4 linked regions of the Homo sapiens genome follow. The protein of the gene in region 3 purifies or fractionates together with the protein of the main gene of each other region. This does not show direct contact. Each region holds a gene or a part of one and is shown on either strand. Other genes may lie near its edges.

Region 1 (4,148 bases), on a different chromosome or scaffold from region 3:
GCAGGTGCCTGTAATCCCAGCTACTCCAGAGGCTGAGACATGAGAGTCGCTTGAACCCATGAGGCAGAGGTTGCAGTGAGCCGAGATCGTGCCACTGCACTCCATGTGTTAACTGACTGTTTATGTTATCAGTAAGGCTTTCAATCAACAGTAGGCTATTACTACCAAAGTTCAGAGAAATAAAAGTTATATGTGGAGTTTCAACTGCACAGGGGTTGGTGCCCCTAACCCCTTCGCTGTTCAAGGGTCAGCTGTAGTCACCCAGTACAACACTAGAACTTATTCTTCCTATCTAGCTAAATTTTGTAGCCTTTAGCCAACCTCTCTCTATCCCTTCTCACCTCTTGAGGAGCCCCCATAATATTCTCCGTAATGGCTCTACTCATTTACATTTGGTTTGGCGTTTTTCACAGAAGACAAAAATGTTCCAAAATCAGACTGTGATGATGGCTGCACAAACCTATGAGTATCCTAAAAAATAATGAATTGTGTATTTTCAATGGATTATGGTATGTGAGTTGTATCTCAATAAAGCTGCTTTTAAAAATGAGGTTTCTGCTGTTAGTCCCACTGTTCAGATTAAGAAGTTGAGATTTAGTAAGATTAGGTAATTGCTTGTTTAGCTAGAGGAGATAAAAACCCAAGCTGTCTTGACTCTTAAGTCTATATGCTTAAATTAACCACCATGCTCTTCTGCATTCCTTAGAAAGGGACCCCACTTATCAAGCATCACATCCTGATATATCATAGGAGCATATATTGTGATATATGCTCCTATGTTCAAGTCTTAAATGCCAGTGACCTTCCGAATTCCAACTACAGCTATAAAGACTTGACCTATTTATGTTACCCCAGAAGGCTAGGAGAGTCGAAAGCTGAAAGGAATAGTACCAAAGAGACAGAGGGGGAAAAAGTGCTCAAGAGCTTCTACTTAGGCCAGGGCGCAGTGGCTCACGCCTGTAATTCCAGCACTTTGAGAGGCCAAGGCGGGCAGATCACCTGAGGCCAGGAGTTCGAGACCAGCCTGGCCAGCATGGTGAAACCCTGTCTCTACTAAAAATGCAAAAAATTAGCCAGACGTGGTGGCGTGCACCTGTAGTCCCAGCTACTCAGAAGGCTGAGGCAGGAGAATCGCCTGAACCTGCCAAGGCCGAGGCTGCAGTGAGCCGAGATCACACCACTGCATTCCAGCCTGTGCAACAAGTGCGAAACTCCGTCTCAAAAAAAAAGAAAACCAAAAACTAAGCACACCTCATCTCTGGGGCATTTGAAATACCCAGGTCCAGGCTGCCATGCCTGACAGGAAAAGAGGAGAAAACCAAATGACAGTATGAATAAAAATGAAATGATAGTTGAAGGTGGGAGGGAGAAGTGATGAGACAGGATAAGCAGATGGTACAAGGTGGGGTTGACTCTATACAAAATTTATTTGCCCTGACTCTCAAATCTCCCTTCCTGTGTGTCGCTTCAGCTTCTCTTCTACCTTATGTTTACACCAAGTCAAGGGCTTTCAATACTCTCATACTGACCCAGAGTTGTTCAAAGCCAGGTGCTGTAGCCTCTCCATTCAGAGCATTGCTCCCCGTCAAGGTGCCATGAGCCCCAAAATATTTTTCCTCTTCTTAAAGTCCCACTTCTCTCAGACCATCTTAGCTCTTAGGTAAGGGTGAAGGTAGGTGGTGGGGGCAGCAAGTAAATTAAACTAGCATTAAACCACTTGATTAAAGAATATGTTGCAAATGGCCTCCCCCTAATAAGCATATAAACAAATGTTTACCTTCACTCACAAAGAAATACAAACCCAAAACAAGACAAATTTCATATATCAAATTGGCAATATAGTTTTTTAAAGTCCAATGTTGGTAAATACATGTCACAGGCATTCTCATACGCTGCTGGTCAATGTAAACTATTACAACGTAGTACTACTCAACAGGAGTCAGAAAAAATAAATTATGTTATAATAAAATATTCTTATTATTTCTTAATTATGTTGATCTGTATGTGCCAGTATGAAAAGAGCTTGTGACTTAACTAAGGAAAAAAGTAAATCACAGTTAAAAAATAAAACAGTAGGCCGGACGTGGTGGCTCATGCCTGTAATCTCAGCACTTTGGGAGGCCGAGGCGGGCGGATCACGAGGTCAGGAGTTTGAGACCAGCCTGGCCAACACAGTCTCTACTAAAAATACAAAAATTATCTGGGCATGGTGGCACACGCCTGTAGTCCCAGTTACTCAGGAGGCTGAGGAAGGAGAATCACTTGAACCCAGGAGGTGGAGGTTGTGGTGAGCCAAGATTGCCCCACTGCACTCCAGTCTGGGCAACGGAGCGAGACTCCATCTCAAAAAATAATAATAATAATAAAATAAATAAATAAAATAGTAAATTACAGTACAACAGTATAACAATACTCTTTGTACAATTTTTTTTAAAGTAAACTTTTAAGAAACTGTTAACAGTGGATTACCTGTGGGGGGAGGAAAAAAGTAACATTTTTTACTCTATCATTAAATTTTTTTTTTTTTTACCATATACCTGTATAACTTTTAACTTAAAATACACAATTCTTTAGGTACTCTATTCCCCTAATAGAGTACTTAAGGCCTGCAACTCTCACCCCTGCAATTTGCCCAGCATCTTGCCCCTGCAACTTGCCCCTGCAACTCTCACCCCCACACCCAACCCAAAGCATCCCATATCTGAAAGCTAACTGAAACTACCTGGTAGAACTTCAGCTACTAAATAATATTTTGGAGATATGGAGCTTTCCTTTAAAATATCTTCAATTACTTCCCTAAAATCACCTCTGAGGAGAAAGAATCCTATCTTACCTAAGGAAACACAAAATCTCATTTCTTTTCAGGTCCCTAACCATCCTCTTCTAGAGAAAGACAATGGTCTTGGTTATAAGAGCCCCTCCTTCTCCTTATGGGATCTAATCTTGGCTAATTTCACTCTCCCACATAAAAAGAGCAACCTCAACTGCCACTGAAAAGGAAGGAGGGCCTGCTCCTTCGGAACTAAGTAACAGCAGAGATCCTACTCTCTGGTCTGTCTCAGCTCTCATCACCTTGCTGTGGATGGCCAACCACTACTCTGCACTTCTATAGGACAGGGTGTCTTCAGTCCTGTTTAGTGCATCATCCCTGGTACTGTATGTATATGGAAGTTTTGTACCTGTTCATTTTAATTGAATCAGGTAATTATCCGTCAAAAAAGAGAATGGCAGGCTAGTGGAATACTTTTAGTCCTTAAAAAGATGCCTCAAAATAGTTTCTTACTTTAATCAGTCTTTCCCCCAAGCCTGTTAGCTTTTATGTTTTACATAGCTAAACCAAGTATTTTTAATTACTACTTATTATTAATGTCTAATTATTAGAACACAATGATTATACTTTTTAAACCTCAAAGGCTTTAAGATTTGAACAAATAAATTTTATTCATCTAAGTTTTATTATCATGATTTTTTCACTGTGCACGATCACTCATGCCAGCTAAAACAATTACAGTCTCAACACAGCAAATTTATTCTTAATTCTGAACTAATTAATGAGAAAGGATTCTAAAACCTTTTTCAAGTAATGGGGGAAATGGTTAGAATCAAGTGGTTGTAACAGAACAGTGTGAGGAAAGGGCTTCTTACCTCTACTCTCCAAGGAGTCAGAATTGCGAACCATTTGGCAGCTTCTTAAAAAGTAAATACACTCTCAGAGAAACTACTGGGCTTGTTTTTAAACTAAGTATTTTTGGAATCTTTAACATTCCCGAACAGGAATACGAAAACCAAGTAAAACGCCTATTGTAACTAGAAGTGACAGATGACTTGTGTAGCAAACTGAGTTTAAAAATGAAAAAATACACGCATACTCATGCACGCACTATATCTTGTAACAAAACAAAGGTCAATACTAACTTTCCCAAATTACTCTTAGAAGTTTCACAAAGAATAAATAAATGCCATGTCAAGTAATGTTACATAAAGAAAGACGGCTCCCGGAGACAGAGACCTACAAGAGGCTATCTTCTGAGACAACCTAAATGGACTGAATCCTAAACAGAAATTATTAAAAACCAGACGCTGAAACAGACGGCTAACCACAAAACTTTATTCTTGGTTAAATGAATAAAAAGGTGAGAAGGGGATGG
Region 2 (4,148 bases), on a different chromosome or scaffold from region 3:
CATGCCACTGTACTCCAGCCTGGGCGACAGAGCAAGACTCTGTCTAAAAAAAACAAAAACAAAAGATGGCCAAGTGAAGACACAGAGACACAGAAAAGGTGGCCCTGGGAAAACGGAGGCAAAGACTGGAGAGATGCATCTACAAGCCAGGCAATGCCAAGGACTGCTGGCCACCACCAGACCCCAGCAGAGAGGCATAGGACAGATTCTCCCAGAGGCCTCAGAAGGAACCAATCCTGCTGACACCTTGATTTGGGACTTCTGGCCTCCAGACTGTGAGAGAATAAATTTCTGTTGTTTTTAAGCCACCCAATTTGTAGTGCTTTCTTTTTTTTTTTCTTTTTTCTTTTTTTGAGACAAAGTCTTGCTCTGTCACCCAGGCTGGAATGCAGTGGCATGATCTTGGCTCACTGCAACCTCCGCCTTCCGGGTTCAAGTGATTCTCCTGCCTCAGCCTCCTGAGTAGCTAGGATTACAGGTACCTGCCACCAAGCCTGGCTAATTTTTTGTATTTTTAGTAGAGACGGGGTTTCATCGTGTTAGCCAGGATGGTCTCGATCTCCTGACCTCATGATCCGCCCGCCCTGGTCTCCCAAAGTGCTAGGATTACAGGCGTGAGCCACCGCGCCCGGCCTGTAGTGCTTTCTTACAGTAGCACTAGGAAACAAACACAGTAATTTCTCTTAATTAAAAAAAAAAAAACTTTGATTTTCCCCAAGGAAACCACCACCACTGCCATCACCACCCTGGAAGTCACTCTTGAGAAAAAGCTTTTTTTTTTTTCTTGCTGTGTCACCCAGGCTGGAAGAGTGCAGCGGTATTATCATGGCTCACTGCAGCCTCGAACTCCTAGTCTCAAGCCATCCTGTGCCTCAGTCTCCCGAGTAGCTAGGACTACAGGTGCATGCCATCACAGCCAGCTAATTGATTTTTTTTTTTTTTTTTGTAGAGACAAGGTCTCCTTATGTTGCTCAGGCTGGTCTCAAGCTTCTGGCCTCAAGCTGTTCTCCGGCCTCAGCCTCCCAAAGTGCTGGGATTATAGGTGTGAGCCACTGTGCCCAGCCAAAAAAAGGTTTTTGCCTAAATACAGAACCAACGCCTCCAAAGATGTTCTTGTCTAAAATTGTAAGAAAGTTGGCAGATGCCAGCAACTACTGTTGAAACTCTTGTGGAGAGTTTGGTTACATTTCTCTAAAGAAGTGGATAATCAAAAGAGCTAACATTTATTAAGCAGTTACCTTTTATCTGGCTCTTGCTAAGCAATGTACATGCATCCTATCTTCTGAAATGCTCACAACTTCAGGTACTATCATTTAGCCCTATTTTATAGGCTTGTCAACTTGTCAAGATCACAGAGCAGTGAGTGGCAGGGCCAGGTTTGCCCCAGGGTCTGGCTGACAGACAAGCTATTCAGATGGACATCCCAGGACAGGGGACTGAGGCGCCAAGACAAGGCAGGGACCAATGCCATCAATCTCATTTCAGGAGCCCCCACCAACAAGCTATCCTCTTACCGCTGCCTCGAAGCCTTTCAAATTTGGGGTCAGGACTGGGTAGTTGATGCCAGGAAACTTCTGAATGCCCTTCAAGACTTCAGTGTGGTCACCCATCTAGGAACCAAGGGAGACATTGCCAAGTCATCACCAAGAGCAGACAGAGAGTTCAGTTAGAGAAAACCTTTTCATCACAAAACCTCTGTTCTCCAGAACTCTTAGCGAGTAATTCCTTCTGCAGAGCTGAGTCTCTCCAATACTTTTACTGTTTGTTTGACTGCTGATGGCTCAGAAGGGCCCTTGGTTTGGCTGAGATCCCAATTTCTCCATATGGCCCATACTGCCAGCTTTACATATGCAGAAACAGCAGGAATACTACTACCAGCCATTTATTGAGAATGTACTCTGGGCCAGGCACTGAGCTCAGCTCTGTGTTAAGCACTCCTTTGTAACAGGATGTTTCTTCTTCACTTAACTATCTTTGTGAAGCAGGAGTTGTCAGTCTTCCTCTTTTACAAACAAAGAAACCACAGACAGGCATAGAGGGTTTTAGACTTTAGGGCTAGAAGAGGTCATCTCTAACACTGAGGAGGGGAAGGCCTTAGCAATGTCACTGAGCAAGTCAGAGCAGAGCCAAGACTGAACCCAAGGCCCTGAATCCTGGGTCATGTTCTTTTGCTGCAACACAGTGCTATGAATCACCTGAGACCTCTCAAAGCCAGGGGCTTGGAAACCTATGTTCTCAACTTCTACTTGCTTCAAAGGCAAATGCAAAACTTTTCATCCCTAGAGAAAGGCCTTTCATTGAGGGCTAGGGCTCACCTGGGGAACCCACTTAGGAGACACAAAGCTGGTGGTTTCTATAACAGAGAGTCCTGCTTCAGAAAGCATGTCTATCAGCTTGATTTTCACTGGAGTAGATACGATATTCTATAGTGGAGAGAGAAACACCAAGGCAGCAAAGTTAGTAACAAAACAGCCTCAAAATGCAGTACCTGTTAGTTCAAGTACTATAGATAATTTTTTGCAGTGGATGCAGCTTCTCACCTGAAAAGGAGTTATTTACATAGAAACATTATTCTGCCATGCAGGCTTTCCCGTAAGTAAATGTGTGTTAATTTATAATCCCATCATAAACAAACTGAGAGCAATGTGTGATGGCCTGAAAGGGCAGAGATGACTAACCCTCTGGGGAGTATGGGATGGGGCCCCCAAAGTATCACACCCTCCTCGCTTCTGTCTCCCAATTGGCATAGGACTTCAGCCTCATGTGTTCAGCGTATAGCTTCTTTATCTTCCTCCCCACCATGTCCAGTAGCTCAACAGATTCCATGGATTCCTCTTTCCAAATCTACCATCATTATCCTGTATATAACATGGCATAGTCTCAAGCCACTAATTCATCTTACACAGGAATCCTCCTAAAATGCAGCTTCCAACCTTCCATTCTCTTGCATCAAAAGCTTTCTATGGCTCCCTAATATTTACAGGATTACGCAAAAAATTCTAAGAACTCCAGGTCCAGGCGGACACATTGGCTCACGCCTGTAATCCCAGCACTTTGGGAGGCTGAGACAGGCAGATCATTTAAGCTTAGGAGTTTGAGACCAGCCTGGGCAACATGGCGAAACCCCCTCTCTACAAAAAATACAAAAATTAGCCAGGCGTGGTGGCACGTGTCTGTGATCCAGCTACTCAGGAGGCTGAGGTGGATCACTGGAGCCTGGGAAGTCGAGGCTGCAGTGAGCAATGATTGTGCCACTGCACTGAGTGACACAGAGCAAGACCCTGTCTCAAACAAAAAGAACACACAAAAATACTCCAGGTCCTTCTCGCTAGGTCCTCCCCTTGCCTGCCTTCTCCAGTTTCTCTCCCACTGCTCTAACTTAATCTTTCCACAAAATTTTTTTTTTTTTGAGATGGAGTCTCACTGTATTGCCCAGAGTGGAGTGCAGTGGCACAATCTCAGCTCACTGCGACCTCCGCCTTCCGGGTTCAAGCGATTCTCCTGCCTCAGCCTCCAGAGTAGATGGGATTACACAAGCATGCCACCACCCCAGCTCATTTATTTTAGTAGAGATGGGGTTTCACCATGTTGGCCAGGCTGGTCTCAAACTCCTGACCTCAGGTGATCTGCCTGCCTCAGCCTCCCAAAGTGCCAGTATTACAGGCATGAGCCATCATGCCCAGCCTGTCAAATAATTTTTGAAAGCCCTCCATGTTGCAGGCATTGTGCTAGGTGCCGGGGATATAGCAGTAAGCAGAAGCAGAACAGACAGGATTCTGCCCTTCGGGAACTTACACACTATTGTTTCCAACAAGCACTCACTATTAAAGCTAGGATGGACGTGCTAAAAAAAAAAAAAAAAAAAAAAAAAAAGAGAAAAAGAAAAAAGCTTTTCTTATTGAAAAAATAATCAATATATGATTCTTTCAGAAAAACATGCCAAAAACAAAAGAAAACCACCCTTAGAATCTCCCAGTGATAACGCTATTAACACCCTGGTGTGTAACTTTCTAGATCTGTGCAGCCCAATATGTCACTAGTCACATGTGGTTATTTAAATTTAATAAAAATTGTATAAAAATAAAAATACAATTCCTTGGCCACACTAGTCACATCTCAAGTTCTCAAGGGCCACATGGGTATAGTGG
Region 3 (4,133 bases):
GCCACACCTGATCCCCCACCCACACCCTGAACTTGGCTCCAAAGGAAAGGGGTGGGAATGGAGCCCTGTGTCCCCAGAGTGCCTCTGAGGCAAGTGCTCTGGGCACGGAGCACATCAGCGAGATGTCTGCCTCTTGAGTGCAGCAGCTGCCAGGCACACTGTGGGGCTTCCCTGGCCCTCTGGCCTGGCAGCTCCTGCTTTGTCATCGGCACTGGGGTTGTGGCTGAGACAGGGATCCCCTGGAGTCTTAGAGCTGGGGCCCCTGCAAGGCAGGGGTACTAGATGTACCCTGTACATCTAGTCCTGCCTGCTCCCTTCTCCCTGCAGCCCCTGCTTCTGGAGGGACACTGGGAAATTGGGGACAGGATGCTCATAGGCTCAGGAAACATATCACCCATTTAATCCTGCATATGTGCAGGTGCAGAGTGAGATTGCTGCACAGAGCAGCACCTTCCATATGACAGTCTTAGTAATTCTGTAGGTTGGTACAATTTTTTTTTTCTTTTTAAAAATGTTTTCACAGAGACAGGGTATCGCTATATGGCTTAGACCAGTCTTGAACTACTGGGTTTCAAGCAATCCTCTCGCCTCAGCCTCCTGAGTAGCAGGGACTGTAGGTGTGTGCCACCATGCCCCACTTGGTACAATTTTTTGTACCCTTTTAGAAACTAGGAAACAGGCCCAAGAGGTGAGGTGACATTCCTGAAGTCATAGCCATGAGAGGGAGGGCCTGGTCTTGTCTGGCTGACCTCATTGCATGTGGCCTTCCTAGCACATCTCCTTCCCTTTCCTTTCCCTTCCACTTTCTCCATTGTACACATAGGGAAACCAGGGCAGGTAACATGGGGCCTCTCAGCCCCATCTGCCTCCTTGGGACCCCAGAGCCCATGCCACACAGTGCTCTGCTCAGCACCCTGCTGTGGGCCTCAAAGCCAACTGCAGCCTCCTGGGAGCAGCCAGGGACTTGGGGTGGCCACGACCACATCCCCAGAAGGAGCAACCTGGATAATGGCCCAGAACCTGACATCACGTCCTGACTGTCGTAATTAGCAATGTTCCCTGGCTAGAGCCAGCAAATGTCATTATATGGGCTTGCGGGCAGCTGAAATCTGATTAGAGGGGCCTCACTCTCCCTGGGCTGTGGGAAGTGCACAGAGCTGGCAGCCCGATCGGCAGAGGGGCTCCCCCTCCCACTAATGTTCCTGAGCCCCAGTCCCAGCTCTGGGCAAGGTAGAAAAGTCAGCATCCATGGCCTCAACCCCCTAGTCTGGCCATACAGAGCCAGCCCCTCTGGGTTGGAGTCCTCAGTGCCCACATGGTATCCTCACACATAATCCCAGGGAGGCTGAGAGATGAGGCCAGGGGGCAGGGCAGGGCAGCTGAGAGGAGCAGAGGAGGCGCTGAATTGTGGGGGGCCAGACAGTGGTGTTCCTGCACGGGTTTTGAGCAAGTGGGAGGCTTTGCTTTGTAGAGCATCCCAAAAGCAGCTGTTCTGGGGCTAGGCGGTGAGGAGTTGAGTGACTGCTGCCAGGGTTCTAGCATGGCCTTGTGTCTGATGGGGCTTAGTGGTGAGGGCCTGGAGTAGTCACGGGCTCAGTATACCTGGTGGGCTATAGGAGATAGTGTAATGTAGGCAGGTGTAACCATGAGGAGGAGCTCCAGCCAGGGGCTCTGCCTTACCCTAACTGCGTGACCCTGGGCAAGTGACTTCTCTCTGGGCCTGTTTGACCATCTCCAGCACTGGAATAAGAGGTGCCATTGTGGGGCGTTTCTGAGGCTCACAGGGCTAGGTCCCCACAGAGTGCTCAGGAGCCATAGCTGCTGCAGGGATCATCATCCCCATCACTGCCTCCCTGCATCTCCTTCCTCTAGACCTCCTGCCCCCCGAGGTCTGCAGTCTCCTGAACCCAGCAGCCATCTACGCCAACAACGAGATCAGCCTGCGTGACGTTGAGGTCTACGGCTTTGACTACGACTACACCCTGGCCCAGTATGCAGACGCACTGCACCCCGAGATCTTCAGTACCGCCCGTGACATCCTGATCGAGCACTACAAGGTGAGACGGGGGTCCTTGCCACCAACAAACCCAGGGCTTGGAGGCTGGCCAGACCCACCTTGGCCTAAGCTCAGGGCTGAGTCGTGGGGCTCCCCTGGCCCTCTTGCCTGGCAGCTGCCCTGGGCAGGTGGCTGGATTGACCCCCTGGGGTGGCCACCCAGCCAGCAGGTCTGGCAGGGCTATTGGCTTAGGCCTGGCCCCTTTCCCCCGGCAGTACCCAGAAGGGATTCGGAAGTATGACTACAACCCCAGCTTTGCCATCCGTGGCCTCCACTATGACATTCAGAAGGTGAGTGGCTGGACCTGTATAGGGGCTCCCTCCTTGGCCTCCTCTTGGTATGGTCATTACCCCTCCGTCCCATCCAGCTGGGGTTCTGGCATGGGCTGAAAGAGGCTGGCTTGGGGCCACGGTGAAACTGCCTCCTCACCATCCGTCCTGCCTCCCTGGCGCCCCCAGAGCCTTCTGATGAAGATTGACGCCTTCCACTACGTGCAGCTGGGGACAGCCTACAGGTCAGTCGGCTCTGCCCCAACCCCACCCCCGCCCCACCCTACACTGCTGTTCTGGCTCAGGACTACCTTGGACTGATGGTATCTTGGGCCTGCTCAGGGGCCTCCAGCCTGTGCCAGACGAGGAGGTGATTGAGCTGTATGGGGGTACCCAGCACATCCCACTATACCAGATGAGTGGCTTCTATGGCAAGGTACTCCATACCCCAGCAGCCAGCCTGCCCCATGGACATGTGCCCATGTCCCAAGGCAGATTTGGGGCCCTCGTCTCCAGCACTGAAGGGGTTGGGGTCCCAAAGGGTGTCTGAGACAATGGCCCCCTCCCCAGGGTCCCTCCATTAAGCAGTTCATGGACATCTTCTCGCTACCGGAGATGGCTCTGCTGTCCTGTGTGGTGGACTACTTTCTGGGCCACAGCCTGGAGTTTGACCAAGCACATCTCTACAAGGACGTGACGGTGAGGATGCTGGGCCTGCCCTCGGATGGCAGGAAAGACTAAGTCCAGCCACAGTGGGACAGCCCCACCTGGGCCCTGCTGTACCCTCATTGTCCTCCACTGCCCCCAGGACGCCATCCGAGACGTGCATGTGAAGGGCCTCATGTACCAGTGGATCGAGCAGGACATGGGTAAGTGTGGACAGAAGCCCTGCCGTGGCCGGCCTGAGCAGGTGGCAGGACTGACCCTCACAGACTCATCTGCCCCATTAGAGAAGTACATCCTGAGAGGGGATGAGACGTTTGCTGTCCTGAGCCGCCTGGTGGCCCATGGGAAACAGCTGTTCCTCATCACCAACAGTCCTTTCAGCTTCGTGTGAGTCCAGCCCCTGTGGATGGAGGGACAGCAGGGCCAGGGCTCTGGGTGGGGAGGGCAGGCACGGAGCCGCCCTCAGACTACTTGCCACCTGAAACTCCTCCACACAGAGACAAGGGGATGCGGCACATGGTGGGTCCCGATTGGCGCCAGCTCTTCGATGTGGTCATTGTCCAGGCAGACAAGCCCAGCTTCTTCACTGACCGGCGCAAGTATGGGCATGGTGGGGGTTGCAGGGCCAGGGAAGGGGAATAGAGGCCCCACCCCAATGAGGGGACTGAAGCAGGAGGCCAACCTGGCCCTTGCCCACTGCCCAATGTGCTTGGGGTGAGAACACCCCCTTGCTGGCATGGGTCCACTTGAGCAGGTGGGCCTTTACGGAGGAGGGATGGGGGTTGCCCGGCCCGTGGCCCAGCCACAGACTGGAAGTCATGCCCTTTACCTGCACCCCAGGCCTTTCAGAAAACTCGATGAGAAGGGCTCACTTCAGTGGGACCGGATCACCCGCTTGGAAAAGGGCAAGATCTATCGGCAGGTAAGGGCCATCTGGGGAGAGCAGCATGTGGTGGGGGCATGGGGCCTAGCTAGGGCCCCAGGCTGTGCAGAGGCAGCCTCTGAAGAAGCAGCACAGCTCCTTGGCCCTGAGCAGCCTCACACAGGCAATGGCTGGCAGGGAGCAGGTCTGGGTGGCCTCGAGAGCTTGACCTCTGGGTCAAGCAGCCTGGCTTTGAATTCCTAACTCCACTACTCAGCAG
Region 4 (3,941 bases), on a different chromosome or scaffold from region 3:
TAAGACACCTAGAACCAAAAGGCGAACCCAAGAAAACAAGTCAATGCCAGAAAAGAAGGCAGAAATAGGGCTGGGAACAGTGGCTCAGGCCTGTGAGCCCAGCACTTTGGGAAGCCGAGGCAGGTGGATCGCCTGAAGTCAGGAGTTCAAGACCAGCCTGGCCAACGTGGTGAAACTGTCTCTACTCAAAATACAAAAAATTAGGCGTGGTGGCAGGTGCCTGTAATCCCAGCTACTCGGGAGGCTGAGGCAGGAGAATTGCTTGAACCTGGGAGGCGGAGGTTGCGCTGAGCTGAGATCGCGCCATTGCACTCTAGCCTGGGCAACAAGAGCAAAACTCCATCTCAAAAAAAAAAAAAAAAAAAAAAGGCAGAAATAGGAATCCAGATCTAAGAAATATGTAGCAATCAGAAAGAGGCAAGTCAAGGAGGAATAAAACAGACAAGACTTCAACACGGAGGCAGGGTGGGGAAAGCCCACAGTGCATCCACTTGGCTATGCTGCTATGAGATCTCAAGGTACCTCTCCAGAGCATCAACAAGGCAGGTCAGCAGTCATGAAGTGACCATAATGTTCCATATACAATACGAATAGGCAGACAAAGACTCTAAACACCAGAGCTGCAGTTATTTCAATTCAGGTTTTATTAAAGTTGTTTCTGAATATTTTTTCTCAGTGATCCTTGTTCTGATGAATATTACATTTCATCCTTAGTTTTGCTCATTTGATTTTGCTTTAGTGTTTAAAGAACTTTTATTTATCAAATCCTTTGCCATGAATGAGAGCACCAAATAACATATCAATACCCAACTGCCTGATTCCTTTACAGCAGTAAGAAAAGTCAGTAAAACATTTGTACAGTCCAAGTACTACAACACCAAGATCCCCTCTTCAAGTGAGAGTGAGCCAAAGCTTCCTTAGTATCATCTCAAGTCAATGTCTTTTCACTATACCATTAAGATGAAAATAACTAAGAGCACTGACACAATTTTCTTGCTCTTTCCATCTAAAAATGTGGGTTTCCTGTGGTGTGGCTAATTTTAAAAACCAGAAAATGGAAGGAAAATAAGTCAGTGAATGATTAGCTTACAAGTTTTTTCTACTCATCATTAACCAGTCTTCCCTTTTCCCTAGACTTTAGACAGCCATAAAAAGGCAGGAAAAACAATGTGCATAATAAAAAAATAAAAATAAATATCTGAGCACCTACTGTAGTAGGCATTTAACACATTTCACTTAATCCTCACAACGCTGTGAAAGAATTATTATAATCATTTTACGAATAAAGAAACAGGCTCAGAAGGGTGAAATCACTGGTGCCTAAAGTCCTGCAGGTGACTGAGCTGAGATTTAAGTTCAAGCCTATGCTCTAATATGCTGCTTTGGCTCCCCAAAGCCCTTCAGCTTGAGATTCTTACTACTATAGCTTCATCTTCTAATTCTAAATTTACACTTTTAAGTCTGCAAAACTACTGAATAACAAAAGAACCTAAAATTATTCTGAATTTACTTGCCAAAACGGGAGGTGTAATAGACCATTAGAAAATTCTTCTAGCCTGGACAATATAGTGAGACCCCGCCTGTAAAAAACAACCAACCAACCAAAAAAAAAAAACCAAAAACCAAAAACCAAAAACCAAAAAACAAAACTAGCCAGTCATGGTGGTGCACTTGCCTGTGGTCCTGGCTACTTGGTAGGCTGAGGTGGGAGGATCACTTGAGCTCATTAGGTAGAGACATCTCTTTAGGTAATCATAACATTCCATACCTAAAATTATTGTTAATTGTAATTAATGTTAATTCTAACTGGTAATGATAGCTAGCAATAAAAAAACACACAGAGAGTAATTACAATCAGCTCATTTTCTTATTGTCACCATCTGTCAAATCTCACAGAATGGAAGGCAAAAAAAGACAACTTCCTATTGTGAACCTTGATTGTTCATTAAATTTACAATATATACTTAGTGGAATGCCAAAAGATGTTCTGGTTTTACAAGCTTAACCACCAGTCTTTTGATTGCATTTTAAAAGTGCATATTTACTTGTTTTTTAAGGGTCTAAATCTGATGAAGATGGTAAGGCCCACAAGGAGATGGCTTTATTGATAAGTTTGTGTGCTGTCTTAGAATTATCTATAATGTATAAGAGGTTAACTTTCCACCACTCCACTGAATGTCATAGAGTTCCAGTGGAAAATGAATTTTATTTTATTTTATAACTTCAACCTAAACCTATATAATCTAGACATCCAACAACATCTGATTGTCTGCTGGAGACTTCATTGCATGCCCATTAATCTTAAATGGAGACTTAATTGCATGCCCATTAATCTTAAATGATTGACATTAATATCTAGTTGTTCTTCATTCATACTCTCACTGGAATTTAGTCAATAGTTTAGAGATTATTTTCCTTGTGTCCAGTCCTAAAAAGACTAGATTTTCATACTTCAGAAGCAGAAAGGGTGAGATTTGATCATTAAGGCCTCTTCCAACATTAAAATATCCATAATTGACTGCCTTCCTAAAATCTGACTGATGTATCATTCATTAAGTCGTTTATTGGACAAATCTTTTACAGAACACCAGCTATAAGACTGAAAAAAAACCACATAGGCCCATTAATTCTAGAGGTTAATATATAAAAGGTGAGCTCAATGTTTACACAGATGTGACTTAACAGATACAAAGAATAGGAAATAGAGCTTGTCAATATAACAGAGGTAGTGATTTGTGAGTACCAACTTAAAAAAAAAAACAACAAAAAAACTTTGCGGGCGCAGTGGTGAACGCCTGTAGTCCTAGCTACTTGGCAGGCTGAGGCAGGATTGCTTGGGCCCAGGAGTTGGAGGTCAGCCTGGGCAACACAGGAAAAAAAAAAAAAATTGCCAAGAGGAGAGAATACTTATGTTAAGTGTTCTTATCGCAAAAAGTAACATAAATAGAGCCAGAGGAAACTTAAAAAAAAATTCAGCATTAACTATTAATAAATGAAATGAGAAATCATGGGAACCTAACACTTTTGTCCTGATCACCACCTCCCATCATTTAATAAAGGATTATAAGGTAAAATTGACAAAAGGGCAGAGGAGTAAAGGCTGGTGGAATAAGTTGTAGGTAAATTACCCAAATAGAGCCATCTGGGTCATTAGCTGTTAGTGTTGCCTCAGTTTGCCTGAAATGATTATATGACAAGGAGGCTGAAAATAATTTGAAGAGCAAAGACAGCACAAGGCTTTTTGGCCATTCTTGCTTGAAAGGGTCCTGGGTATCTCAAATTTCGATGCTCCTTGCCTTCCAAGTCTCATCTAGACCTTTAGCCCCTGCAAATGGGGATGAGAAAGGGGTGGGTATGGGACAATGATGTGAGCATAAAGCCTATCTAGTTGGGATTACAAGAACAAAAGATGGCTAAAAGGAAAAAAACAAAACAAAAGGTAAAGTCCTGAAAATCTATGTGTATAAAAATCAATCCAAATGATCTAAATTTATACGACCACGAAGCTTTATCCTCTAAGTACCCAAATGTTGAACCAATCCCTACCATCTCCTTTTTCCACAAAATACAAGATACTACACAATTCCTGTTATAGAGACCGCTAGGAAGAAACATGTAGTTGAAAACCCATAGTTAAAAGGATTTTGGATTCAAATTTATCACAGTACCAATTTTCCTAAACATGTTTTGATAAAGGCCATTGGAACACCTGTCACACTGTTCAAATGCCCAATGGTAAGACTTCTGATGAGACCAAACAGGTCACATTAAATCAATAGAATATCTTAGAAATAAAGCCAATATGACTAAATCCAAAACATATCACATGAAGTACCTCATGTACAATACAAACCTAGTTTAATAAATAAAAGAAACATAGGTGACTGCGCTCTGGGAGAACATCCAGTTCCTGATGGCCTCTTCACAGTCTTCTCTGAGAC

Evidence for each region.
Region 1: the proteins of NT5DC2 (region 3) and PDS5B fractionate together in Homo sapiens (co-fractionation; one large-scale study listed by BioGRID). This does not show direct contact.
Region 2: the proteins of NT5DC2 (region 3) and HMGCL purify together in Homo sapiens (co-immunoprecipitation; one large-scale study listed by IntAct). This does not show direct contact.
Region 4: the proteins of NT5DC2 (region 3) and GRPEL2 purify together in Homo sapiens (co-immunoprecipitation; one large-scale study listed by IntAct). This does not show direct contact.

What each region holds. Positions count from the first base shown.
Region 1 is NC_000013.11:32,589,344-32,593,491, reverse strand, and holds part of PDS5B (sister chromatid cohesion protein PDS5 homolog B), read right to left. Parts: intron 1-4,148. UniProt on the Homo sapiens protein: Regulator of sister chromatid cohesion in mitosis which may stabilize cohesin complex association with chromatin. May couple sister chromatid cohesion during mitosis to DNA replication.
Region 2 is NC_000001.11:23,815,161-23,819,308, forward strand, and holds part of HMGCL (hydroxymethylglutaryl-CoA lyase, mitochondrial isoform 1 precursor), read right to left. Parts: intron 2,424-4,148; coding exon 2,316-2,423; intron 1,611-2,315; coding exon 1,515-1,610; intron 1-1,514. UniProt on the Homo sapiens protein: Mitochondrial 3-hydroxy-3-methylglutaryl-CoA lyase that catalyzes a cation-dependent cleavage of (S)-3-hydroxy-3-methylglutaryl-CoA into acetyl-CoA and acetoacetate, a key step in ketogenesis. Terminal step in leucine catabolism.
Region 3 is NC_000003.12:52,527,074-52,531,206, reverse strand, and holds part of NT5DC2 (5'-nucleotidase domain-containing protein 2), read left to right. Parts: intron 1-1,872; coding exon 1,873-2,057; intron 2,058-2,271; coding exon 2,272-2,346; intron 2,347-2,514; coding exon 2,515-2,570; intron 2,571-2,667; coding exon 2,668-2,761; intron 2,762-2,895; coding exon 2,896-3,024; intron 3,025-3,133; coding exon 3,134-3,194; intron 3,195-3,275; coding exon 3,276-3,378; intron 3,379-3,488; coding exon 3,489-3,590; intron 3,591-3,831; coding exon 3,832-3,913; intron 3,914-4,133. UniProt on the Homo sapiens protein: Promotes dephosphorylation of tyrosine 3-monooxygenase TH which decreases TH catalytic activity and leads to reduced synthesis of catecholamines including dopamine, noradrenaline and adrenaline.
Region 4 is NC_000005.10:149,351,264-149,355,204, reverse strand, and holds the end of GRPEL2 (grpE protein homolog 2, mitochondrial precursor), read right to left. Parts: coding exon 3,923-3,941; 3' UTR 622-3,922; downstream 1-621. UniProt on the Homo sapiens protein: Essential component of the PAM complex, a complex required for the translocation of transit peptide-containing proteins from the inner membrane into the mitochondrial matrix in an ATP-dependent manner.